2 separate regions of the Homo sapiens genome follow, and region 1 is linked to region 2. The links come from fine-mapping of genetic effects on gene expression. A gene starts in region 2. The other region holds a variant in brackets. All regions are shown on one strand. Distances are between the middles of the regions. Region 1 has its middle 27 kb from the start of SLC15A1. Region 2 holds the start of SLC15A1 (solute carrier family 15 member 1).

The links.
Region 1: its variant is fine-mapped to the expression of SLC15A1 in sun-exposed skin (GTEx, PIP above 0.99).

Annotation. Positions count from the first base shown.
Region 1 is chr13:98,774,082-98,786,219 of GRCh38, reverse strand. No RefSeq gene overlaps it. Among named protein-coding and RNA genes, the nearest start is that of SLC15A1, 27 kb to the right of the region's middle. RefSeq lists an enhancer at 1-520 and a silencer at 4,111-4,405. The variant G/A (reference allele first, on the strand shown) is at 3,304.
Region 2 is chr13:98,744,233-98,760,790 of GRCh38, reverse strand. SLC15A1 (solute carrier family 15 member 1) reads left to right here and starts at 8,119. Exons shown (of 23, transcript NM_005073.4): 1 at 8,119-8,196. The coding sequence starts at 8,193. LOC105370330 (a long non-coding RNA gene) reads left to right here and starts at 2,594. Exons shown (of 3, transcript XR_931672.2): 1 at 2,594-2,725; 2 at 4,759-5,069; 3 at 5,208-5,669.

The sequences.
Region 1 (12,138 bases), 28 kb before region 2:
CGACTGGCTCATGGTAAGCCCTGAGTAAATGTTATTATTGTTATTATTTTTTAACCAGGACTCAGCACAAATAAGGGAAGAGGAGAGAATTCAGCATTAATTCTTGCTCAATACTCCCTTTGACCCATGTTTTCCCACAGGCGTTCTAGGGAACATTACCAGTTCCAAGGACATGGGATGTTAACAGGGACATTGAGGGACAAAAAATTAAAAGGAGGTTGGGTTTCCTTGTTATAAGAAGTTAGATTGAGCAGCTTCTCCTTTAGTACCTCTCAAAGCCTCTTGGATGAACTTTGCTTCTAAGACAGGTCCCTGCTAATGACTATTTCCCCAAATCCACTGACAGACACACCTGCTCCTCTAGAGCCTGGCCCGCGGCCAGGGTCCCACAAATGCTCTCTGAGAAATACTCCAGAGACCACACAGACTGGGCCCCTGTCCTGCCTCCTTGGCTGCGGTTCATCCCTGGTGGCAGAGGGTGGCTCCCAAGGGTCCTCGGTTAGCAACTCCAGCCAGGAGCAGGGGTACAGCCATCACCTGCCCCACCTGGGTGGCTGTCTACTTGCCCGCTTAGCCAGACGCAGTGATGGAAGGGGCGCAGGTTGCCCACCCCAGTGGGCTGAGCCTGCACCCTTGATGTAGGAGGTTTCCTGGCACAGGCTGGCCTGATATCTGCTGCTGGTCCGGGCTTGTCATGCTGCGCATACACCGGATGAGGACGCAGCACCGGAGTCTGGAGCTTGCACCTTCTTGTCCACAAGTGACTTGAGCAGATTCATTTTCACTCCTGTCTCTCCCCCTGCAAGTCAGGGGAAAGCCCGGGCATCCCCTGCCTCACGGTGGGGAATGAAATGCGTGCTAGAAGGGACCCCAATAATGCACTCTTCCATTTGGAAGAAGCAAGAACAACGGCTACAATCGTTCCTTGAAGTCTGTGTCAGTTGGAATTTGCCTGGAATATGGTGGCGCTGGCTGAGAGGGGGTGGTGGCTCCTACTGGCATGCTGGTGGGAGTCATCTGGAACTGACCCTAGAGCTTTCTGAGCCTTGCAAAAGAGCCACAGGTGAAGACATGAGGCTGAATTGTGAGGCCCTAGAAATGGGCAAGACCACCGCTGAGGTTAGACCCAGGCCCAGATCCGAGAGTTGCTGAGAAGCCAAGGGAACCAGTGTCTCTGGACGAGACACTGAGCTGAGCTCCAGAAGGTGTTCAGCAGATGCTGGTGTGCAGCTCAGGAAGGAGGAACCCACACAGCCCCGGGCAGACCTTTGTCCTGGTGTGACTGACCCATCAGCTCAGGAGGAGAGCAGGCAGGGCCTCCTCCTCACAAAGGCTGATCCCTCTGTGTCAGGGACACTCACCACACCCTCTTCCTACGCTGCTCTCAGGTGCCAGCACTTTCCAGTGTGACCCTTAATCCTCAGAACAATGCTGCCATGTGGGCGGTGGCTTCCTGTGAAGAAACCATGGGCAGAGAGATGGGCAAAGTTGGCGTAGTCACACGGTACACGGGGAGATTCCTCTGACCTGGGGCCTGGTCGGCCAAGGTGCTCAGCACCTCCAGGCCACACCGGCCTCTGCAGAGATAGGGGCAAGTCCTGCAGGCTCCACTGTGCCCCCACCAAATTCGTGTATTGAAGTCCTAACCCCCAGCACCTCAGAAAGTGACTGGATTTGGAGTAGGGTCTTTAGAGAGGTAATTAAGTCAACATGAGGTCACTAGAGTGGAACCCAATCCAACAGGACTGGTATCCTTGTGAGAAGAGGAGATCTGAACACAGACTCACACAGCAGGAAGGTGAGTGAAGACACAGGGGGAGGATGGCCGTCCACAGGCCAAGGAGAGAGGCCTGGAACAGATCCCTTCCTCATGGCCCTCAGAAGCAGCTGCCCCTGCTGACGCCTTAATCTCGGACTTCGGCTTCCAGAACCGTGAGGCAGTGACGTCTGCTGCTTAAACCACAGCCTGTGGAGCTGTGTTGTGGCAGCCGAGCGGACTAACACAGCCAGACCCCATGCCACACAAGGGGATGGGGCCATGGTGCTCCAGGACATGTGGGGAGACTCAGATCCTTAGAGAGACAGAGGTTTGAACAGAAACATCACCAAACCAAGACAGGATGAGGACAACAAGTTTCTGAAGGAACTAGCCTTGCTCTGAAACCAAGATTGGGAAATATTGTCACCGTTGGCTGTGGCAGCCCCGTCCGACTGGTTCTGAGCAGGTGCTTCCAGGAGTGGGGCAACAGCAGGGCCCACATTGCCTGGTAAATGACTTCCCACCTTTCCAGGTGGGCATGACCGGAAGTGAGTGGGAGGTAATATGGCCCCTCTCTCACCATCTGTCATAAGCTGTCACAGACAGCCACCCAATGTCCTCTGCTTAGCTTGGCAGTGTGAAAGGAGCACTGGATGAGGAGTCTGAGAGGCTGGATTCTAGCTCAGTGGCCCAAGTGTGGAGTCCAACACCATCTGAGCTCCAGCTTTGACACCCATAACTGAGGAAAATCCCTGTTTCTCTTGACTTCACAGTTTCTCTGTCAAATAACATCATTTACTATTACTATATCCCCAGCCAAAAGGATTGTAGGGGCTTGTAATAAAAACATAATCAATAAAATCATTCAAGCAAGCATAAAATAATGGACATTAAGGAAAGAAGGGAAGAGATGGTTGTTTGTTATCCTTAACAATACAGACTAAGCCCCAAATTTAGCTCTGAGCATCCTGGCAGCCAAGAGAAAAAGGGAAACACTTTCAAAAGTAGATTAAAAAAATGTTTGAAGTTTAGAAGATACAGTACTTTTTTAAAGTTACACACTGTACAGAATTTAAAATGATAATTTTCTTTCAACGTGCACATTTCAAACATGAAGAACAGAATCCATGGCCAGGCTCTACACTCCGATTTCCTACATTTCTAGATGTTGTAGACTTCCTAGATTTGTGTAGCTTAAAATAGAGGAATTTATCACTGTTATCTCCACCCAGTCACAATCTCATGTTCTAGGCAAATCCAGTAAACTTTCCCCCTCCTCTCTTTATAAAAAATAGCCTCTGTACTTTTTTCTAATTATAAAAGCACTATTTGCTCCTAGTAGAATGTGTATAAAATACCAAAAAATAGAAATGAGAATTTAAATATCCACAGTCCTCCAACCCTCATCCCTTCCAGATAACTGCCATCGACACTTCACTGGCTCCATTCCAGCATTTTCTGTCTTCTGAGTTTCCTGTTGTTTCTTGACCCACATAGTTGAGGTTGCCTCAACTTTAGAAGTTTTGGTTCCCGGTAAATACTGT[G/A]TAGGAGCACCTAGAGTTACCAGATTTTCAACGTGACTCAGAGCTCATTTTCCTTAAGATAAAAATTGAGCAACAGGTTTCTGCCATCTTTGCTCTGCCCACCCACGTGAGCCTTGGGTCCACAGCTGTCTCTGCAACAGGAGCTCTGCACAGCTGGTCCAGAGCACCCACTTCCTCCAATTCCCACCCCCAAATGGGCTCTACTTTGCAGATAGTAAGAGCCCCTGGTGGAGTGAGAACCGTAGTTTTGAGCCACTGTAACTTCCTTCACCCATTATTCCTACTGTCTTGGTGAAGATTTACCTGGAGACAGGGTGGGCTTTGAGAAAGGATGTCTCATTACCATGCCCAAAAAGCCTCGTGCACCTCTCAGAATTTCCTTGTCCTTTTCTATTTCACCCCGTGAAATTCCACCAAAGGAGGTTCACACACATTAACACGTGTCATTGAAAAATTCCATCCTAAGATAAATCTGCTCCATGGATCTTGTGTGGATTGTGTCACTGTTATTTTTCTACTCACACATATTAGCTGTGCCATGGGAGGGGTCGCCTTACTGAAGGGAGCAAGAGACGTTGTTTTAGAACTGAGTAGAGGAAAGAAATCCTCTGTGTGGCTCTGCAAGGAAAGTCCGTGTAGCCCTTTTGGGCTGCTGGGTCCCCGGGACACAATGATGCGGCCGGAGGTGCCTGAGGCTCTGCCTGCTTCACCAGTGCCAGTGTAGACCCCCTGCCTGTGGAGTCCAGGTTCTCAACCCCCTTCCCCCGACCTCCATTACTTGAGCGGGTCAGCTTCCTTGAGTGTATGTGGGACAGAAGGGATTTGCTCTCCATTCCTCCTGAGTTGTCCACATGGCAGTTGCTCTTCCTGGGCCACCACACACCTCCTTGGGAATCCTGGAGTCAGAGGAAGCTTCTACTTTAGTGTGGCAGGCAGTGGGTGATAAGGTGCAGGTCGTGGGTCCCTTCTTTCCCCAGAGCCCCAACAGCAGCCTGTACCTGTGCCTCCCATGCACCTCTAGGGAGAGGCCGTGGCCATGATGGGTGGGAGGTCCTCAATCCCAACAAGGCACCCAGAAAGCTAGCCTGTCTGGTCCTGGGGGCCCGCTCTGAGGTACCCACGTTCCGACCATGCTCCTATGACCTCAACTCTCCTGTCCTCTGACAGAAAGTGAGTCCTTGCCAAAGCTCCATGCCCCTCACCATCACAGTGTCCAGCCAGGTCACAGCCGTCACGGCTATGCGTGGAGCACGGATTCCCCCATCAACCCGTGATGCTCTTGCCAAGTTTTCCAGGGCCTTGTCCTCAGTGCTTGCCTCACTTGACCAGCAGCAGTGTGGGAGCCAAAGCTTGCTCCGCCCTGAGCACCGTCCTCACTTGGCTGCCGGGAAGGACACACCTCTCCTTCCTCCCTCACACCACAGGGGTTCCTCCTGTGCTGCTGCCCAGTGTCTTATTTCCCGGGTCCCCTGGGTGCAACGCTCACTTCTTGTGGCTTGAATGATCTCATTCATATGCTGACCATACGACGATGTCCTTCATCTGTGTGATGACTATGATGACATCCATCATCTATGTGATGACTGTGATGACGTCCATTATCTATGTAATGACCACGATGATGTCCATTGTCTACGTAATGACCATGAAGATGTCAATTGTCTATGTAACGACCACGATGATGTCCATTGTCTATGTGTTGACTACATGATGATGATCATCATCAAGGTGATGACAGCGTTGACGTCCTGAGCGACAGAGTGATGTCCATCATCTATGTGATGACATAGATCATCTATGTGACAACATCCATCATCTATATGCCAACTATATGACTACATTCACCATCTATGTGATGACCCCCCTCCATGTCTATGCTAACTGTATGTTGACATCCATCATCTAGGTGATGAATTTGAAATGTACATCTCTGGCACAGACCTCTTCAAACTCCGGACTGTTAGTCTCCCTGTCTACTTAATAACTCCACTTGGAAATGGATTCAAATCTGAAATTCCACATGCATGAAAGCAAAGCACTCAACAAATGAAGTCTTTCTTGGCCCAGCTGATGTCACCATCATATAAGGATGAGGTATGTGGAAGAAAATTGGCTATACAATTGTATACAGTGGGACCAAGGTCACACAGCTAGGAGCTGGGGTTTGAAACTATGAGCTTGGCTTCAGAGTCTGCATGTGTAACCATCATGCTATTCTTCCAAATTCAAGCCATCCTAAATGCTCTTTGTTGCTTCCGTTCCTGGTTATAAATCACAAAGCTGGTACATAGTGAGCGATCCAGAAAGGAAATTCCAAACAAAGCCCAAGACACCACTTCTTCTGGAGCTTAGGATTCTCATATGTGCTTGACTCTGATCTATGCATTTCCTCTATTTTTTTATTATACAGAATTTCAAACATATAAAAAAGAAAGGCTGGGCATGGTGGCTCATGCTTGTAATCCCAGCACTTTGGGAGGCCGAGGCAGGCAGATCACTTGAGGTCAGGAGTTCGAGATCAGTCTGGGCAACATAACAAAACCTCGTCTCTAAAAACACAAAAATTACCCAGGCATGATGGTGTGCACCTGTAATCCCAGCTACTCAGGAGGCTGAGGCAGGAGAATGACTTGAACCCAAGAGGCGGAGGTTGCAGTGAGCCAAGATCGCACCACTGCGCTCCAGCCTGGGAAACAGAGTGAGACTCCATCTCAAAAAATATATATATATATGTATATATGTATAATATATGTGTATATATATGTGTAACTATATTATATATGTATACACACACACACACACACACACACACACACACACATAATGAAACAAATAAATAGAAATAAAAAAGAGACAAAACTGCCCAATGCCTCCCCATGAACCATCCAGCTTCAGCCATGATCAATGCTTGGCTAGTTCCTCTGCTGTGTGACTTGAAGCACATCCTAGACACCACCTCATTCCATCCCCTCATATTTCAAGGCATTTCTCTAAGAGATAAGGATACTCGCTTGACTTTTAAAATTCACAGTTATCCACTGATGTCATCAAACCTCCAGTCAGTGTTATCTCCAACTGTCTTTTGATGCCATAGTAATTTTTTTCACAGTTTTCTCATCAGTACTCATATTTTGAGTAGGTATTTCTTTTAAGCCTTTTCTAACCTATAAATTTCCCCTCCACCTTTGAGTTCCCTGAAATGTATTTGTTGAAGAAAATGGGGTGTTTTTCCTTCGGGGTTTCCTGCTGGGTTTCCCAGATGGCATCCCTAGAGTCTGTCTCTCTCTCTCTTTTTTTTTTCTCGTAGACAGTCTCACACTGTCCCCAGGCTGGAGTGCAGTGGTGCAATCTCAGCTCACTGAAACCTCTGCCTCCCGGGTTCAAGCGATTCTCCTCCCTCAGCCTCCCAAGTACCTGGGATTACAGGTGTGCGCCACAACACCTGGCTAATTTTTTGTATTTTTAGTAGAGATGGGGTTTCGCCATGTTGCCCAGGCTGGTCTTGAACTCCTGACCTCAAGTGATCCACCTGCCTCAGCCTCCCAAAGTACTGGGATTACAGATGTGAGCCACCACGCCTGGCCAGAGTCTGTCTCTTAACACTTTCCTCTCTCCTTTGTATTTCCTATAAATGGATCATTGGATCTAGAGGCTTCACCAAATTTAGATTTGGATTTTTTTGGCGAGATTACTGATAATATTGATAGATGGTGCTGTAATCTTCCATCTAAAGGCAGATATGTCTTGTGGGGCTGTTATGATGTTCGATTTCATTGATTACAGGCTACAAAATCGTGATGTCTGCCTTCACCTATTAACTGGAATGCTCCTGGTAAGGAAAAAATCCCCTTATCTATACCATTTGGTCAGCCACCAGTACAGCCACCACAGCATGAATACGTAAGTGTTTTCTTTTAATTTCCAGTTTGCAAAACAATGAGTCAGTTCCCTGCATCTCCCGCAGTGACGAGTTTGTTTTTCCCTTTCGTGCCAGAATGAACTTAATTGATTTAAACGTATCTGATGTGTTGCACTGACTTATTTTTATTGATGTTTAAATGGTCTCGTCTTGGCCGGTGTGTGCTTCTCCAGGTTGCTACTGGGCCCTGTTGTCTTGACCCTCACAGTCTTTGAGAACATCTTTGCTATTGGATATGATGTTGTGGCTCATCTTGTACATTTCCTGGCCCAAACATGGAATCAGCTCATTCTCCAAGGATTCCAGGGGGTTTTTTTAAGTTAGAAATTTGCAAGCCACCCTCTGGACATGGCTGAGGGTTGGTCATGGATTTTAAGCTTTTACAGTGGAAGAGCTAGGAAATACACATCTATAAAGTACTTCTGCTGGGCACAGTGGCTCATGCCTGTAATGCCAGCACTTTGGGAGGCTGAGGTGGGCGGATCACCTGAGGTCAGGAGTTCAATCAAGACTAGCCTGGCCAACATGGTGAAACCCCATCTCTACTAAAAATACAAAAATTAGCTGGGCATGGTGACAGGCACCTGTAATCCCAGCTACAAGGGAGGCTGAGGCAGGAGAATCGCTTGAACCCAGGAGGCGGAGGTTGCAGTGAGCCGAGATCACGCTACTGCACTCCAGCCTGGGTGAGTACAGAGTGAGACTCTGTCTCATAAATAAACAAACAAACAAACAAATAAATAAATAAAGTACTTCCTAGCCCAGGAGCTCCTAACCACACTTCTAACTCATATCCAAGATGGCAGCGGTTCCTCTTCCACCTTCCGTCTGTATCCCCTTTCTCTCACGCTGATATTCACGGCTTTTGGGACATCAGGAATGATAGAATATCACTAATGACCTATTGCTTCATTCCACGTTAGATACCTGACAACCTCAGAATAAGAATACCAGCACCATCTCAGCAGGGTTTTAGGGCAACTACTCCATATGATACTATAATGGTGGATATGTGTCATTATACATTTGTTAAACTCAAGGGCTAGTCTGCATGTAAATGACGGACTCCCGCTGACAATGATGTGTTTATCGTGGTTGATGGAGTCCGACAATGTATGGCCAGTGCAGGTCGTTGACAGTGGGGGAAGGTGTTTTGGGGGTTGAAGAGTGGGAGAATGTGAGAATTCTCTGTACTTTCCCCTCAATTTTGCTGTGAACCCAAAACTCCTCTAAAAAACAGTCTATTAGGGCCCGGCGCTGTGGCTCATGCCTGTAATCCCAGCACTTTGGGAGGCTAAGGCAGGTAGATCACCTGAGGTCAGGAGTTTGAGACCAGCCTGGCCAACATGGAGAAAGCCCGTTTCTATTAAAAATGCAAAATTAGCTGGGCGTAGTGGCACATGCCTGTAATCCCAGCTACTTGGGAGGCTGAGGCAGGAGAATCGCTTGAACCTGGGGGGTGGAGGTTGTGGTGAGCCGAGATCGCGCCACTGCACTCCAGCCTGGGCAACAAAGAGTGAAACTCCATCTCAAAAAAACAAAAACAAGTTCTATTAATTTTTTATAAATTCATGACTCCAAAGCCAATTATGCGAGAAAACAGATGTAAAAAAGTCTAGGCTGGGTGTGGTGGCTCACAGCTGTAATCTCAGCACTTTGAGAGGCTCAGGCAGGAGGATTGCTTGAGCCCAGGAGTTTGAGACCAGCCTGGGCAACATGGCAAAACCCCCATCTCTCCAAAAAATACAAAAATTAGCCAAGTGAGGTGATGTGTGCCTGTAGTCCCAGTTACTCAGGAGGCTGAGGTGGGAGGATCAATTGAGCTGGGAGGTGGAGGCTACGGTAATCTGTGATTGTGCCATTGCACTCCAGCCTGGGCTACAGAGCAAGAGCCTGTCTCAAAAAAGAAAAAAAAAGTCTAACTTTTGTGCTTGTTTTCATTATTCTTCTCTACTCCTTATATAAAACAAATTTGAAAGGTTTTGAATTCTCCTTCCATTTATTTTCCATATCACACACACATTCATCTCCTCCATTCTTGGCTCAGTGGTGGCACACTGTCCCCACTTAGCACTCCGTCTGATGGACATTTCTCCACAGTAGTTGTACATGTCACTTTGCATCTGAAAACCTGTCTTTGTTACTGGAAGCACAGTAATTTACCCAACTGTTGAAACAGTCTCGCTTTTCTTTCAGAGCAATGAAAACTAATGTCACATTTTCTTTTTTTTTTTTTTTTTGAGACTGAGTCTCACTCTGTTGCCAGGCTGGAGTGCAGTGGCACGGTCTCGGCTCCCTGCAACCTCCACCTCCTGAGTTCAAGCGATTCTCCTGCTTCAGCCTCCCAAGTAGCTGGGATTACAGGCATGCACCACCACGCCCCGCTAATTTTTGTATTTTTAGTAGAGATGGGGTTTCACCATGTTGGCCAGGCTGGTCTTGAACTTCTGACCTCGTGATCCATCCGCCTTGGCCTCCCAAAGTGCTGGGATTATAGGCGTGAGCCACCGTGCCCGGCCTTGAGCCACCGCGCCCTGCCTGAAAATGTCACATTTTCAAGGAAGCACGTACCAGTGTACGCAGTGGCCTTGTGCAAATTTACCCCTCTGGGTGCTCTCTTGCAGCTCCCCATCTCCCAGGCAGCTCTCCTTCCCGGGCGGGGCCCACATGCCTATCTCTGGAATCAGTGTTCGGCCGTCCTGTCTCTGACTCTGATGTGCACTGAGTCATCGTGTAAAACCTCCACACACTTCCCAGGTCTGTCAGATCATGGAGCAAAGTCCCCTTGTAAAGGAAGGGACGATTCTGCTGAGGCAGAAGATGAATTGACCTCTTGCCTTTCGAGGAAGGCTCCGGAGCTGAGCTGGGTGGAGGACACTTGTTCTACCTAGTGGGCTCCCAACACGCAACACCTGAGCCAGAGACCCGGCATCCCCTCCCCATCCACTCTCTCAGTCAGGCCGCACTCCAGGGTCCCTTAGAAGGTGCAAATGCCACTGTACCCAGTCTTTGTGGAGGGGCTGCTACATGCGGCCATTGTGAAGACAGGTTGATCTGGGATTTTATATTTTTAAGAGGACATTTAGAGCTCAGCTGTGGAGTCATCTTTTTCAGCCTTAGAGTGATGCGTGTTTTCCAACTAAGAGGATTTGATGTGGACTTTTGATCACAAAAAAACTGGATTTGGGAGAGTCTTTGAAAGTCTACTAATCGGTGGTTCTCAACACCCCGCCCCCATGCCCCAGTCCACCAGGGGATGCAAACGAAAACGTCTGCGGACATTTTTGGTTGTCATGGTTGAGGGTGGGGGTGCTACTGTAACCCTGTGGGTGGAGGGCTGGGATGCTGCTGAACATGTCACAGTGCACGGGACAGCCCCCACAACAGACAGAGATCGTCCAGGACAGCAGTACAGCCACGGCGGAGAAGCCTCCGTCTAAGCTCTTGTTGGTCAAGGGGTGACCTGCAGCCCAGCAGCCGCGAACAGACAAGTACTTGGGAGCTTGCGGGCAGAGGGTCCTCGTCCACACCCAGAGCCACCGAGCGCAAGTCTGCATTCCAACAAGCCCCAGGGGATTCCTTTGCACAGTAGGGTGTGAGAATCACTGCTCCCTGTGACCCCAATGCCAAGAGGGGCCTGACAGCAAAAGTCAAGTGTCCCACTCGAACACAGGGCTCCAGAGAAGCTCTAACTAGCCAGCTCATTGAACACCTTCAAGATATTTATTGCAAGGAATGATTTGCCCTGATGAAGACACAGAGTCACTAGAGAATGTGTAGAGACAGAGGCCAGCAGCATTTTCATTTTTAATCTCAAGAAGATTCCACAAACCTTTCAGTAGCAGGTGCCAGCGTTTTGAAGCCCCCTTACGGCTCTTGGTGGCAACACTTGCTGGCCAGTTACCGAGGGCATGACTTTGAAGCCCTCCACCCACTGCCCTCTGTGGTGTCCTGAGTACCTGACTAACCCGCCCAGGAACAGAGCTTCACCAGGATGGAGAAGAGGTCTCGTCCTTGCTCCGGTTCTCCTGGGGCCCAGCCCCATGCCTGGCAACCAGTCGAAGCTTGGCATCCATTGGACAGATGGATGTAGGAGAAGCAGGGACAGAGGAGGTCCTGGCCCCCAACCCCAGATGCCCTGAATGAGGAGGGAAATATTCTCCTTCACATGGGAAAATGGCCACCTGGCTCCCAAGCCGGCTGTGTGGGGAGCAGGCACGTCTGAAGGGGTCTGGCCTCTGTGTGGTCCTTTCCCACCTGCAGAAAACCAAGCCTGAGTGCTTTGCCTTCTCCATGTTTTTATTTTTATTTATTTATTTTTTTCTTGAGACGGAGTTTTGCTCTTGTCGCCCAGGCTAGAGTACAGTGGCATGATCTCGGCTCACTGCAACCTTCGCCTCTCGGGCTCAAGCGAGTCTCCTGCCTCAGCCTCCTGAGTAGCTGGGATTACAGAAGTGTGCCACCCAGCTAATTTTGTATTTTTAGTAGAGACGGGGTTTCACCATGTTGGCCAGGATGGTCTTCAACTCCTGACCTCAAGTGATCTGCCCACCTCAGCCTCCCAAAGTGCTGGGATTACAGGCATGAGCCACCGGGCCCGGCCCTCCATCCATTTTTTCAATATGGGATGCACACACATTCAAGGCAGGCCAGCCCCACCATGAGACTCTCAGGTCGCAGAATCTGGCGTCCGGGAGAACGAAGCCCCCTAAATTGCGACCCCACGGTGGTTGCTCCCACACTCAGCGGGTGGCCGCTCCCCGTAGGCTGCCCTCAGGCCTCAGAGTTGCTTGGGCATTTTTTGTCTGGAAGTCACCAGCTGAGGCCTGGACATGCCCCTGCACCCACGGTGGCGCACCCCTCCCGGGATGGCGAGCTCCAGGACGGACCAGCACAAGCGTGGACCTGACCCTGAC
Region 2 (16,558 bases):
ACCCAGGGCTTCAGCCCCACTGGCAAAGGAGACAGCAAACCTGCCATCTCCACTCCTGGCTGGCTCACCAAAATGTTGTGATAAACTGAGGACTAGAGAGACCAATATGGGAAAACAGGAGGATGTTTATTTTAAGGTACACACTGGCTCAGTGGATTCACATCTAAAAAGCTGAGCATTGAACAAAGACAGAGTTTAGCTTGAATAGGCTAGCATACAAGAGCAAAACAAAGACAGTACATTTTACATTGACAGGTCACATAATCTATAGCATAACTGCTAACTTGGCATAACTTATGGCCTTACATACCTAGTGGCCTTGCAGCTGTGTCAAAAAAACCAACCAAACAAACAAACAGGAACTTTGCAAATCTTACTAAATACAAGCATTGGCAAACATAGTCATAACTAATAGTTCAGTACAGGAGAGAAAGTAAAGGAATTTGTTGTTGTTCTTTTTTTTTTTTTTTTTGAGTTGGAGTCTCACCCTGTCACCCAGGCTGGAGTGCAGTGGTGCAATCTCGGCTCACTGCAAGCTCTGCCTCCTGGGTTCACGCCATTCTCCTGCCTCAGCCTCCTGAGTAGCTGGGACTACAGGTGCCCGCCACCACGCCCAGCTAATTTTTTTGTATTTTTAGTAGAGGTGGGGTTTCACCGTGTTAGCCAGGATGGTCTCGATCTCCTGACCTCGTGATCCGCCCACGTCGGCCTCCCAAAGTGCTGGGATTATAGGCATGAGCCACTGCACCCGGCGTTGTTGTTCTTCTCTTAACCTTGCTTTGGGGGTTTGTGGAGCTCATTTCTGCAGGCCGGGTCACCACGACCTGTCTATAGCCTTGCCTGCAGTAGAGGAAAACTTGTGTTTTTCACTTAACCCTTACTTTCCTTGGAGTGAATAAATGCAGTATTTATTTTTCTTTAAATTTCTGCCTCATTGACAGGGAGGTAGGAAAGTCAGGATCAGAGAGGAAGATGCGATGGCGAAAGAAGCAGAGAGCAAGGAAGATGTTGGAAAATTCTATGCTGCTGGCTTTGAAGATGGAGGAGAAGGCTACACAATCAGGCATGCCGGCGGCCTCTAGAAGCTGGAGAAGACCAGGCAATAGTTCTACCCAGGGCCTCCAGAAAGGACGCAGATTGCCAACACCATGAGTTTAGCCCCGTAAGACCCTTTCTGGACTTCTGCCTTCCAGAACTGTCAGCAAGTTGTGTTGTCTTAGCCACTAAGTTTGTGATAATTTATTCCAGTACCAGTAGAAAACGAACACCTTTTCTCAAAAAAAAAAAAACAAAAAAAAACTCATGATTTTTGCCAGTTATTTAATATACATATGAGTGGTAGAATATTTGAAAGATGGCCAGGTCTAGTGGCTCATGCCTGTAATTGCAGCACTTTGGGAGGCCGAGGCAGGCAGATCGCCTAAGGTCAGGAGTTTGAGACCAGCCTGGCCAACATGGTGAAACCCCATCTCTACTAAGAATGCAAAAATTAGCCAGGTGTGGTGGTGCACATCTGTAATCCCAGCTACCTGGGAGACTGAGGCTGGAGAATCACTTGAACCCAGAAGGCGGAGGTTGCGGTGAGCTGAGGTGTTGCAGTGAGCTGAGATTGTGTCACTGCACTCCAGCTTGGGCAACAGAGTGAGACTCTGTCTCAAAAAAAAAAAAAAAAAAAAAAAAAAAAAAAAGAAAGAAAAAAAGAAAATTTGAAAGGCAAATTAAGCAGTGTGTTATAGAAATACCTGAATTTTCTAAAATCTTTGTCAGCTGTGGCATTTGGAGAGATCATGTCTTGTAATTCTAGAAGATAAACATAGAGTAATTGTGCATGAGTAATAAGGTGTCAAGATGTATATTTATTCAAAATAACTGCCAACTCCATCACCTATAGTATTTTAAATGTATAGGACTTGACTAAAGCAGGTTGTCAGATATGTTCTGGTATTGTATAATTAAACCTGAAGTGAATAAATAGGACATTTGTGTCTGTATTTCTTTTTGTATTTTTTCTTTTAGAGATGAGGTCTCACTCTGTCACCCAGGCTGGAGTGCAATGGCACAGTCACGGCTCACGGCAGCCTTGACCTCCACCATGCCCAGTAACTTTTTGTGTGTACTTTATGTAGAGACAAGGTCTCCTAAGTTGCCCAGCTGGTCTCAAACTTCTGGGCTCAAATGATCCTCCTTCCTTGGCTTCCCAATGCTAAGATTACAGGCATGAGCCACCACGCCCGGCCATATTCTCTTCTTCCTTTTCATGTATGTTTGAAACTTTTCATAATAAAAAAATAAATAAAAAGAAAAAAATGCTCCCCGATAATAATACCCATAGCATTATAGTGAGGAAGGAATTAAATGAGATTGATCACAGGATCTATATACAGCAAGTGTGTAATCAATATTGATCATTACTACTGACACTACAGGCAATCAAGATTGAGAATTAGATTTGCAAGGAAAGTCTGTTTTAATTTAGATTAGTTTGGTGCTCATGGTAATGTACTTATTTACTATGGATCACTTTGTCTTCTAGATGCTGTAAATAGGACATCACGGCTTGGAAGCCCCCCAATCCCATGTTCCTGGGGCTAGTCCCTTAATATTCTGAGGCCTTGGGGGTTCATGTGCCACAACATGTGAATTTTGTCCACCAGCTCTTGGTTCCCAAGTGCCTTTGAATGAATTTGAGTTGCTTACTGGTCTTCCTCCTTCTCCTACTTTCCAGGTAAACTTCACGTGTTTATTCCCCTCCTACCTCCTCCCCACCATCTCATTCCATTTCCCAGACTCTCTCTCTTCTCAAATAATGGCTATGGGATTCACTCTTATTGTTTATTCCTCAAGTCCCTTCCTTAAACATCAGCATCTCCATAGCAACTCTAATTGCTGTATATTTGACATCTACTCAATTTCTCTCTGAGATGGAATGAAAAGGTCTTTACAGCCAAGCAATCTGAGGAACAGAACTGGAGGAAATGACGCTCTGTTACTCCAAAAAGTTTGCAAGCCACCTTTTCAAGGCCATGTTCTTCCTAGAATAGATTACTAGTATACCTTTGTATCATTTAAATGTGTCAGTAAGAAAACAAGGACAGGCCTAGTTTTGAACAACCCTGACTGCTACCACTGAGTGCTGATCTCATTGTTACAACATTTGCCTAAGGAAAATTCTCGGAAGCCAAGCAACACTTCTGTGTCTCCAGGACCAGCCTGCCAATTCTGTACACTCCAATTCCAGACTTGGGTCCCTTTGGGGAGTATAGTGGGCTCATGGTGCCTGCCTGGAACCCGGGCCTCTTTTGGAAAAAGGGTCTTTGCATATGGAAGCAAGTGAAGGATATGGAGATGAACTCATCCTGGACTAGGGTGGGCCCCAGCTCCAATGACAAGTTCCCTTACAAGGGAGGAGAAGGAGACAGGACACAGGGCAGAAGCCATGTAGAGACAGGGGCTGAGATGGAAGTGATGCTGCCACGAACCCCAGGTCACATGGAGCCACCAGAAGCTGGAAGAGACAAGAAAGGGTCCCCCCCAGAGCCTCTGGAGGGAGCATGCTGCTGATACCTTGATTTTGGATTTCTGACCTCCAGAACTGTGAAAGAACACACTTGTGTTTTCATAAGCCTCCAAGTCTGTGGCAGTTTGTTACGGCAGCCACAGGAAACGAATAGAATACATAGACTGTGTTGCCCATATGGAGGGTATAAAAACCGAGTCTACTGCTGACGAAAAGAGTCAAACTCCGTAAAATATTTGAAGAGATTTATTATGAGCCAAATGTGAGTGACCAAGGCCCCTGACACAGCCCTTGGGAGATCCTGAGAACATGTGTCCCAGGTAATCCCGGTGTAGCTTGGTGTTACACATTTTAGAGACATGAGACATCAATCAAATACATTTAAGAGGTACATTGGTTCAGTCCAGAAAGGCAGGACAAACTTGAAGCAGTAGGGGATGGGGGGAGGTGTGCTTTTGGATTATAGGTAGATTTAAAATTTTCTGGTTGACAATTGGCTGAATTTATCTAAAGAGCTGAGATCAATGGACAGAAAATGTCCGGGTTGCAATAAGAGGTGATGGAGACCAAAGTTTTATCATGCAGGTGAAGCCTCCAGGTAGCAGGCTTCAGAGAGAATATATTGTAAATGTTTTTTATTAGACTTAAGGTCTGCGTTGATGTTAGTGCCATGCCCAAGAGGTACAAGGAGGCACGTCCAATCCCCACTTCCCATCATGGCCTGGAGCAGTCTCTCAGGTTAAATTTTAAGAGTGCCCGGGCAGAGGAGGAAGTCCATTCAGATGGTCGGGGGGCCTTAGAAATTTACTTTTGGTTTACACTATTACCCCCTACACAGCCTGCCAGGGAGCAGCACAGCAAGACACAGGTCTCCAGGGATTGGCTGAGCTATTCAGGATCTGCAGAGCCTGTCTCCTTGACCCCCTTGGTTTTTGTTCTTCATTTAGGCTTCTCCATCTTGAGTACCTTGCCTCTTCTGGCCGTGCTGTAACGGATAAGAATGTGAGCTCTGTGGGCGCAGGCCTGTCTCTGCGCTGGCCACCCACTCTGCCCAATGCCGTCACTAGCATGGTAGTTGGCACTGGGAGGTGATAAATAAATAATGCCTGAATGAAGGATTAAATAAGCCTGTGGAAGAAACAGCATTTGTCTCGCAACTACTGAGAAGTTGCTGCACCCACTGCAGACGTTCTGATTCAGTAGCTCTGGGGCGGGGCCTGAGAATCTGCATTTCTCTCAAGTTCCTAGGTGATGCTGATGCTGCTGGTCCAGGGATCACAGTTTAAGAACCGCTGGCCTAGACCAAGAGTGTGTTTACAGAAGTCCGGATTCCAGGGTTCATGAGCTCAGCCACAGAAATACCACCCTGCAGAGAAAACTTTGACCTAAACAAACCATCACAAGCTCCACCTTTCTACGCCCGGGATATCTCGCAGGGTAGCAACTGTGAGTGTGCTTCCAAACCTTCCAGAGAAAGTTTTCCTTTCCTTCAGCCGAGGCTGCATTTTTCTACCTAATGAGGTCCTGTGACTTGCAGCCCCCATTTCTGGAGGTAACATTGACCGCTACCTTGTGTGTATCAATGCTGCAACTAATTGAAGAGTTTCTTACTCTTCAGCGGCAGTGAAGAAAGCCGGGGAAGGGCAGGCTCAGTCACCTCCATGGAATAGCAGTCTCTGTTTCTCCCTAGGCACCACAGTCTTCCAGAAAGGCTGGCTGGGAGAATGCTAAGACTCAAGAGATAATAGAGTCAGGTGAGTGGATAAACCAAGTGTGTTGTAGACACACAACAGAATATTCCTCAACTTCAGAAGGAAGGAAGGCTGATGTACTTCATACCATGGATGAGCCTGGAGGGCATTACCCAAAGTGAAAGAAGCCAGACACAAAAGGACAAACACTGGAGATTTCTTCCCTGGACGACAGAGTTGTCAGATTTATGGAGACAAAAAGAAGAACGGTGGGTGTCAGGGCCTGGGGGCAAGGGTGGATGGGGAGTATTGCTTAATGGGTCCAGTGTTTCCATTTGGGAAGATGAAGAAGTTCTGGAGCTGGATGGTGGGAATGGTGGGACAACAATGAGAATGTACTTCATGCCACTGAACTGTGCACTTCAGATAGTTTTACATTGTATTTCAGCATGATTAAAACAAAAAGGCTGTGGAAACTCACCTTCATTCCCCTTTTTAATGTTCCTTTCTGTGTTTGCAAAACCTCCTGAGATCAGGCAAGAAAACAGAACAATAATCTGGAGACAATCACTGTGTTATTATTTTTGTTTTGTGATTCTTTTTTGTAAATTATACTTTAAGTTCTAGGGTACATGTGCAGAACGAGCAGGTTTGCTACATAGGTATACACATGCCATGTTGGCCTGCTGCACCCATCAACTCATCATTTATATTAGGTATTTCTCCCAATGCTATCCCTCCCCCAGCCCCCCACCCCCTGACAGGCCCTGGTGTGTTATGTTGCTCGCCCTGTGTCCATGTGTTCTTATTGTTCAACTCCTACCCATGAGTGAGAACATGCAGTATTTGGTTTTCTGTCCCTGTGATAGTTTGCTGAGAATGATGGTTTCTAGCTTCATCCATGTCCCTGCAAAGCACGTGAACTCATCCTTTTTTATGGCTGCATAGTATTCCATGGTGTATATGTGCCACAATTTCTTAATCCGATCTATCACTGATGGACATTTGAGCTGGTTTCCAAGACATTGCTATTGTGAATAGTGCCTCAGTAAACATATGTGTGCACGTGTCTTTATAGTAGCATGATTTATAATCCTTTGGGTGTATACCCAGTAATGGGATCGCTGAGTCAAATGGTATTTCTAGTTCTAGATCCTTGAGGAATTGCCACACTGTCTTCCACAATGGTTGAACTAATTTCCACTCCCACCAACAGTGTAAAAGTGTTCCTATTCCTCCATATCCTCTCCAGCATTTGTTGTTTCCTGACTTTTTAATGATCGCCATTCTAACTGGCATGAGATGGTATCTGATTGTGGTTTTGATTTGCATTTCTCTGATGACCAGTGATGATGAGCATTTTTTCGTGTGTCTGTTGGCTGCATAAATGTCTTCTTTTGAGAAGGGTCTGTTCATATCCTTTGCCCACTTTTTGATGGGGTTGTTTGATTTTTTTCTTGTAAATTTGTTTAAGTTCTTTGTAGATTCTAGATATTAGTCCTTTGTCAGATGGGTAGATTGCAAACATTTTCTCCCATTCTGTAGGTTGCCTGTTCACTCTGATGGTAGTTTCTTTTGCTGTGCAGAAGCTTTTTAGTTTAATTAGGTCCCATTTGTCTATTTTGGCTTTTGTTGCCATTGCTCTTGGTGTTTTAGACATGAAGTCCTTGCCCATGCCTATGTCCTGAATGGTATTGCCTAGGTTTTCTTCTAGGGTTTTTATGATTTTAGGTCTTACATTTAAGTCTTTAATCCATCTTGAATTAATTTTTGTATAAGGTGTAAGGAAGGGATTCAGTTTCAGCTTTCTACATATGGCTAGCCAGTTTTCCCAGCACCATTTATTAAATAGGGAATCCATTTCCCATGGCTTGTTTTTGTCAGGTTTGTCAAAGATCAGATAGTTGTAGATGTGTGGTGTTATTTCTGAGGCCTCTGTTCTGTTCCATTGGTCTATATATCTGTTTTGGTACCAGTGCCATGCTGTTTTGCTTACTGTAGCCTTGTAGTATAGTTTGAAGTCAGGTAGCATGATGCCTCCAGCTTTGTTCTTTTTGCTTAGGATTGTCTTGGCTATGGGGGCTCTTTTTTGGTTCCGTATGAACTTTAAAGTAGTTTTTTCCAATTCTGCGAAGAAAGGCATTGGTAGCTTGATGGGCATAGCATTGAATCTATAAATTACCTTGAGCAGTATGACTATTTTCACGATATTGATTCCTCCTATCCATGAGCATAGAATATTCTTCCATTTGGTTGTGTCCTCTTAAAGAAAGGATGATTCTTAAAGAAAGGAAATGTAGAATCCCCCAGAAATGCTTTCAAAGGTTGAATCTCAAAATAAAGCCACACACACACTCTCACACACACTCTCACACACACATCACACATACATTCTCACATGCAAACTATATACATATTCTCACACATGCTCACACTCAATCCTCATTCACACACACACACTCACACACAATCCTCACTCACACCCACACACACATTCTCTCTCACACACACACACACACACACAGCTGACCACTGTCCCACCGTGTTTTGCCTCCCCACCCAGAAGCGTGCGTTCCTCCCACAGTGGTTTCCAAAGTGTCGTTCTGGATCCAGCAGCATCAACCTCCCCTTAGACTTCTTAGAAATGCACATTCTGGGGCCCCAGCCCCGACCTCCTGAGTCAGCTGGCCGGGGGGTGGGGCCTGGGAATCCGCGTTTAGACTGGCTCTCCCCCGGCCTGCCACGCGCTCCCGTCGGGGCCCACCCGCACCTGGGCCGGGGCTGGTGTCCACGCGCGACGGCTCGGGAGCACGGACCTCTGCTCCCCGCAGCACCGCCCCCCGGGTGGAGCCGGCGGCCCCGCCTCGCAGAGCTGGGGCTGTACCTGGGGCAACGGGGCCGGGCCTGGACGTCAGGTCGGAGGAGTAGCACCTGCCAGGAGCACGTCCCGCCGGCAGGTCGCAGGAGCCCTGGGAGCCGCCGCCATGGGTACGCTCGGCGGGTGGGGGGCCGGCCGGGCTAAAGACTCGGAGCTACGCGGGGCGGGGGCCGGCACCGAGGGCCGGGAGGCGCGAAGGGTACGCGGCGGCGGGAAGCGGGGCGACCCGAAGGCCCACGGGGGCCGGGAGGTTGCGGGGCGCCCGGGATCCCCTCCCGGGTGGTCACCGTGCGGCCGGGGCGCGGAAGCCAGAGGTGCCCAGAGGCGCCGACTCCGCCGAGGTTGCGATCCTGGCCCGCCCGCCCGTGGGGCACTGTAATCCTCGTATTCCCACCCTGCGGGCCGGGAGTGCGCTTGGAGCGGGACGGGACCCAGCGGGTGACGGCAGGGGCGGCAGAAACACCGTCTAACTGGCGGAAGCCTTGTGGCTGCCTTTGCACTTGTCTTGCCTCTGGCTGGCGAGGTGACCCTGGAGTTCCGCAGGGAACCCTGGCCCAAGAGGAGATGGGGCCTCTCTTTGTGGCCCCCTCTTAACCCTCTGCACTGTCCCCTGGCTTAATTTGAGGCACCTTCTGTGCCTTACAGAAGGTGAGGAGCTGGCTCTTGATGGGGCTGGAGCGTCAGCAAAACAGCTAGGAGGCAACTTGACTCCTGCCCCGCTTCCGAATTAATCACCCTGGAACTAAGGCAGACCCAGAGAGAATGAACGGAAGCAGAGCCAGAGCTGCTGGGAGCAGCCCAGCCCGCTGCTTTCTTAAAGATGAGGAAGCCCAGTCAGCTTCCCAAAGTTGTGCCATGGATGCCCCCGGCCAGCATTTTGCAGAAGATGTGGCCACGTTGTTGAGGGGGATCTGAGCCTGTAGACAGGAATGTCGGTCGGTGGCTGCCTCAGTGGTCCTGGTGGAGTGATGTGTGTCAGTGCCCAGCCCCAGGGTGCAGCCGTCCTCTGGCTCTCAGAATGCCTGCCGGACACAGCATGTGGTGGTTCCTAAGGAGAAGCAGTGAGTGGTTCACACTTTGGACTTCTAATTGTAGCCAGTTGTGCCTGTTCCAGAAAGACCTGCAACTTCCCTCTCTGGCGGAGACTGTGGCCGAGCTCAGCTCTGCAGGCAGATTCCTGGGCTGCAGTTCTGGGTCCCGCCCTCAAACAAGTCCCACCTGTCACTCTATGCAACTTTGCTGGGAGGTGCTCTGAACTATTTCTGTTGATCATCAAATACCAAATACCTGAGCAGCATCCTTGTTGAGTTGGAATTTATGACCCGTGTTTAGCATTTCCAGCAGATCCAATCCCGAGAGCTGTTAGAGGCAGCTGCCTGGTTATTGGTGAAGGAATACAGAGTTAGATTTGAAGCCTCCTTTCCAAATGAATTGATGCGTTCTAGTCTGCAACTGGTCCTCTCTGTTTGCAACTGAGATTGACATAGCATGTGAATAGCAACAAAAAAGTTGATATGCAAAAACCGATTTGATTTTTACTGAAGTCCTAACTTTTCAATATCAAGGGTTAGTTAGTAAATGAAAAAAAAATTGTTTAATGGTTGTTATGGGGAAAAAAAGTAGTAGTAACTTCTCTTAAGAACAGATCTTGGCCGGGCGCAGTGGCTCACGCTTGTAATCCCAGCACTTTGGGAGGCCAGGGCAGGTGGATCACCTGAGGTCAGGAGTTCGAGACCAACCTGGCCAACATGGTAAGACCCCCGTCTCTACTAAAAATATATAAAAACTAGCTGGGCATAGTGGCGGGTGCCTGTAATCCCAGCTACTCGGAAGGCTGAGGCAGGAGAATTGCTTGAACCCAGGAGACGAAGGTTGCAGTGAGCCAACGTGGTGCCACCGCACTCCAGCCTCCGCGACAGAGTAAGACTCCGTCTCAAAAAAAAAAAAAAAGAACAGATCTTTGGTACTTAGGTCATGCCAGAATTGCTTCAGATCCCTCAGTGACTGAGGGGACACTTGAAGCAGTTGGCGAACGAGGCAGGGGACAAAAAGGACGTGGTCCTTAGAGAAGCCTGTACCTCCTGCCTCTGACTTTGTCCCACTGTAATTGGAGCAAATTTTCACGGCAGGTGCTTTTTCATTCCTTGAGAATCCAGGAGCAGAAGTTCTGAATGAATAGGAAAGTGAGGGATTGGATGAGACTCAGAATCATACCATTAAGGCATTTATTAGACTTAGTAACAGAGGCAAGGAGAATCCACAACAGTTAACAGAATAAATAGAAGTTGCTTTGGGGCTGGGCGCGGTGGCTCACACCTGTAATCCCAGAACTTTGGGAGGCCGAGGCGGGCGGATCATAAGTTCAAGAGATCAAGATCATCCTGGCCAACATGGTGAAACCCCGTCTCTACTAAAAATACAAAAATTAGCTGGGCATGGTGGCATGTGCCTGTTGTCCCAGCTACTAGGGAGGCTGAGGCAGGAGAATCACTTGAACCCGGGAGGCAGAGGTTGCAGTGAGCCAAGATCGTGCCATTGCACTCCAGCCTGGACGACAAGAGTGAAACTCCGTCTCAAAAAAAAAAAAATGTTGCTTTGGGTGTGGCAATGCACAGCCAAACCTGGCTGAGTGTCTTGTTGGGCTCATGAACGGCACCTCCTTTGTTTTAAAGCAGTGGTCGACAGTCTCTTCTGGAAAGCCCCAGGTAGGAAATGCTTCGGGTCCTGGGGGCCAGGTGGTCTCTGTGGCAACTTCTCAACTCTGCAGTTCTAGAGCAGCCGTACACAATCAACAAATGAGCAGAGCAGTTTCTATAAAACTTCATTATGTACTGAGACATTTGAATTTTATGTAATTTTCATGTGCCACAAAATCTTAAAAAACTTTTTACAATCACTTAAAAATGTAAGCTTACATTCTTCTTAGCTTGTGAGCCACACAAAAACAGGCAGTGGGCCAGATGTAGCCCATGAGCCATAGTTTGGGGATCCTAGCCAAGGTATCTGTGTGGTTCTCAGAGCCTGGGGTGGAGAGATGTTCTTTTCCCAAGGGCTGTCAGGTTGAATTCAGTCTCTGAATAGCAGAAAACTTCTTATATGCTGGGAAGAAGCGTCAGTAAGAAAAAGCAGCCTCCGAAGCCTTCGTAGGATCATAGGGCTGGGGGTGCTTTTGCTGAAGGTTTTGACTATTTGATCTCTTTCCTCCCACCCCACCTCACTCCCTTATCCAAAGCTTAGCAAGACTATGCTAAATGGACTCTGAAAATTAGGTACAAGGCTTCAGGTTCAATGCAGCAAGCACCTGCCTCTATCTGCCAAGACCTCCAGGTTGATTGGAGATACTCACTCACTTAAAGTAGGATACTTTATTCTCTTCCTGCCCCACCAGATCTCAGCCTCCTGGCTGGCCTTGTTTGTGATTCTGATAGGTTTTTCCAAGTCAGCTGCCTGAGCTTAAAATGATGGATGGGCTGTGAAGGTCCCTCACACCTGGTGCGTCCCTCCACATTCTCTCCTCCTCCTGTCAACTCTTGAGTCAACCGAAGAACAATATTGAAGTACCAGGGCAGCTGGTGTCCCTGCTGCAAGCTATAGAGGTGGTCCCACACTGAAGGAAGCCTTTGGCATATGACCTTCGGGGGAACTCACCTCCTCCTAGCCAGCAGCAAGAAAAGAGAACTTCTAACATTGGGTTCTTTTGGGCTAATATTGCTCTAAGTCAGCGTTTTTCAAACTTGAACATGCATCAGGCTTATCTGAGTGAGGGCTTGTTCCAGCAGTGGGGCTCGCTGGGCCTCTTGCCTAGAGTCTCAGGTGCAGGGTAGAGCTCATGCACTGACATTTGACCACGTTCCCACGTGGTGTGATGCTGCTGCTCCCAGGCCCACGCTTTGAGAACCACGACTCTAAAGATCCCCTGGGTTCTTTTTTTTGACCCCTGCCCATGTGAACATGTTGCCACTGTGCCCTAAAATTAGGCTGTGGGAAGGTCTAGTACAGTCTGGGCCCTGGCTTGTCCATGTGGGTACATGTCCGTGATGATGAAGCATTGGGTAAATTAGCAGGTAGAACTTGAGAATTAGTCTGCCGGTGCCGTCTTAACGTAGGGATAGCTGGGCACTGCGGCTTACGCCTGTAATCTCAGCGTTTGGAGAGGCTGAGACAGGCGGATCATTTGAGCTCAGGAGTTTGAAATCAGTCTGCGCAACATGGCAAAACCCCGTCTCCACAAAAAAAATACAAAAATATTAGCTGGGCATGGCGGTGCGCACCTCTAGTCCCAGCTACTCGGGAGGCTGAGGCCAGAGGATCACTTGAGCCCAGGAGGTGGAGGTTGCAGTGAGCTAAGATTGCTCCACTGTGCTCCAGCCTGGGCAACAGAGAAACTGTGTCTGAAGCAACAACAAGACAAAAACAAAGAAGTAAAGAGAGTAGAAATGAATAGGAGTGAGAAATGAATGTGGTTCAGCTGGGCTGGCCAGGATGCACCTGAATTGCATATCTATGCAGGTATTTACTTAACCATGTGAGGATAAAAATAATCCTGCCTGAAGAAATTATATCCTCAGGGGGCAGGAACATAAGCCCGTAAACAACACTCTTCCACTCCGAGTTAGAGTTGAGGAAAATGAGGTACTATGAGACCAGTGAAAGCAGCAACTAGGAGTGTTTGTCTGAGCAGGAGGGTTTGCCTACTTTAGGTTTGCCCAGTTTGGATGGAATGCTAAATGTTTGCATGGTCTTTCACGTCTCTTACAAAATGTCCTGAGTAAGATTATTCCATTTTCGATTCCCTTGGGTTTTTTTGTTTGTTCATTTGTTTTTTGAGATGCAGTCTGCTCTGTCAACCAGGCTGGAGTGCAGTGGCACAATCTCGGCTCACAGCAACTTCTGCCTCCTGAGTTCAAGCAATTCTCCTGTCTCAGCCTCCAGAGTAGCTGGGATCACAGGTGCGCACCATCACACCTGGCTAACTTTTGTATTTTTAGTAGAGACGGGGTTTCACCACGTTGGCCAGGATGGTCTCAAACTCCTTACCTCAGGTGACCCGCCTGCCTTGGCCTCCCAAAGTGCTGGGATTACAGGCCTGAGCCACTGTGCCAGGCTGGGTTTTTTTGATTAATAATTTTTTTCTACTGCCCTTTGAGTTACTGAACCATTCCATGAAGAACAAACAGGGCTTACTCAATGGGCTAGTTGAGCTACCAGGAATCCTCCCTAGAAAATGGGACTGCTACTCTATTCCCCATGGTGGAGCTGCTGATGACTGGGGGCCTGGTGTAGAACTTTGGAGCTAAGACTTCCCAGCCAGGTGTGTTCCCATGGTGGAGGCAGAAGCTCTCAGACACAGTTGCGTCTTGATTCTATGCTTTGCAGGATGAGAAAGTGGGTAGGTGTCCCAGGTGAGCCGATAAGGAAATAAAAACAAGGGTCAGGCCTGAGGAACCTTTCCACATTCTTCCTTGAGGACAGTGAGAGAAAGAGCAGTATTCTCAGCTGAGCGAGCACGGTTGACTCATCATCCCGGGGTTGCAACACCAAGAACCAGGGAGTCACTCTTTTGTACCTTTGTCCCTTGGTTTCAGAAGCTGGAAGTCTATTGCGGAGGACACTGGACCCTGGGTTCACCTCATGGATGTGATACAAAGGAGGCTGTGTCAGCCGGGGTGGGGGGGGCCACACCTCTTCTCTCGGCCCCTCTGGTTTTTGGGGTTTAGGATGAGGGCAGCTATGAGAACACAGTTAAAGCACAGGCTCAGCCGTTGGGAAGTGCCACAGCCACGGGGCACAGGGACAGGGTCTTCCACAGAGGCTTAAGAAGGAGGAAGGTCTAGTTCCTCTCCTGGTTCCTAGACTGGAAACTGCTCAAAGCTCCTCACCGGGCTGCGGAAAGGGGTCTCTCATTGGAGAGAGGGTTTAGAGTCCTCCAGGTATGATGTGGGGATATGGAACAACAGGTCCATGTCCAGAGGGAATTTTGGTTCAGAGATCAGATTAACAAATAGAAAATTCACAAAATGTACTTCCATAAGAAGGCTCGTTAAAAGTTCTCAAACTAGGCATTTAGAACTTCTACAATCTGCCCCTAGTGACAAGATTTTATTATAAGCTCTATTAGGACATGGCAGATGTTTATACATTTGAGATGTTCTTGAGGAAATAAACGTTTTTCCTTTTTTTCCATTAAATCAAAACACCTTGCAGAGAAAAGGGAATGCTTATACACTGCTGGTGGGAGTGTAAATTAGTCTAACTATTGTGAAAAGCATTGTGACAACTCCTCCAAGAACTACCATTTGACCCAGCAGTCCCATTACGGGGTATATACCCAAAAAAATATAAATCATTCTACCATAAAGACACATGCACACATATGTTCACTGAAGCACTATTCACAATAGCAAAGACATAGAAGCAACCTAGATACCTGTCAATGATAGACTAAAGAAAATGTGGTACATATACACCACGGAATACTACGCAGCAATAAAAAAACAACAAGATCATGTCCTTTATAGGAACATGGATGGAGCCGGAGGCCATTATCCTCAGCAAACTAACAGGAACAGAAAATCAAACACTGCATTTTCCCACGTATAAGCAGCAGCGAAATGATGAGAACACAAAGACACAGAGGGGAACAACACATACTGGGGCCTACTTGAGGGTAGAGGGTAGGAGGAGAGAGCTGTTTGGAAAAAACCAACTATTAGGTATTAGGCTTAGTACCTAGGTGGAAAAATAATCTGAGCATCAAAACCCTGAGTCACGAGTTACCTATATAACAAACCTGCACATGTACCCCTAAAATCGAAGTTAAAATGGTAAATAAATAATGTTACAAGTTAAAAAAAAAACAAAAATACATCAAGACACCTAAACTCACATGGTGTACTTGTTTGCTATGGTGTCTGTAACAAAAGCACCACAAACTGGGGAATTTGAAACAACAGAAAAGTCTTCTCTCACAGTCCTGGAGGCTGGGAGCCCAGAGTCAAGGGGTCAGCAGGGCCACACTCCCTCCGAAGGCTCTGGGGGTGAAGCCGATCCAGGCCTTTCTCTTGCTTCTGGTGTGGCTGGTGGTCTTTGGCATTCCTTGGCTTGCGGACACACCCCTGCCGTCTCTGCCAGCCCATCTGTCTCTGTGTCACTTTTCCTCTTCTTAGGAGCACTCTACTCACATTGGATGAGGGACCGCCTTGTCCCAGTATGACCTGGTCTTAGCTAATTACAGCTGTAATGATCCTATTTCCAAATAAGGTCAAGTTCTGAGATTGAGAAGGATGTGAATTTGTGGGGGGATGGGCAGGACACTATTCGACACCCCGACATGGTAACAGAAAGTATTCTCTCTGAACTATGTCCATGGCTTATAGATGACTTTAGGTAGAAAACATTTGTAGTGTAAAGATAACTCCACCATGGTCCTCAGCTCGGATGCTATGTCTGGTGACCAGTTCCTTCCCCCAGCAAGACAGATGGGTTTTCTGGTCATAGTTTCTGGTCAACTGTAAACGGTCCACTTAGTAAGAGAGTTGGTACGTAGAAAACAGGCCCCAAAGTGATCTAGGAGACACAGGCGATTTACCTCTAGTTCTAAAAACGACGTTCCCATTCTGTTGATGCGGTACTGTGGACCTGCAGATAAAGTTTCCAGGCAGTCTTCATGTGCAGTGTTTCACTTTTCTGGTTTTTGAAAAATATAGCTGTTTCTGCTATGCATGCTAATTCTAAAATTAGAAGACTGAAAAAAATAAGTCACCTGACATTTTTATGGAGAATTGTTAGAGAATATCTAATGAAATTTAAAATACACACAATATTTTAACAGCATTCTATGTCTAGAACTTTCTTACAGATATTCTTATGATAGGAAAGAGCCATGTGCAACCCAAATATTAGGTTGGTGCAAAAGTAATTGCGGTTTTTGCCTTTTTTTTTTTTTTTTTTTTTTTTGAGATGGAATCTTGCTCTGTCGCCCAGGCTGGAGTGCAGTGGCGCGATCTCGGCTCACTGCAACCTCTGCCTCCCAGGTTCAAATGATTCTCCTGCCTCAGCCTCCCGAGTAGCTGGGATTACAGGCACATGCCACCACGCCCGGCTAATTTTTGTATCTTGTGTAGAGAGGGGGTTTTGCTACCTTGGCCAGGCTGATCTTGATTTCCTAACCTCATGATCTGCCCGCCTCGGCCTCCCAAAGTGCTGGGATTACAGGCGTGAGCCACCGCACCCGGCTTTGCCATTACTTTTAATCTATCATGTGGGCAGAAAACTTGCATTCTGTTTTATACCCTAACGTCATACTTAACCATGATTGTAAAGCATTTTTTTCTAGTCATGATTTACCATTAAAAAAAAAAAAAGTCTGTGTGTGTATAAGTTAGGGTCTTCAACCTCATTGCCTTGAAAAACAACCCTCCAAAAGACCAAGAGATTGGTTCTTTTTTTTTTTTTTTTTTTTTTTGAGACAGA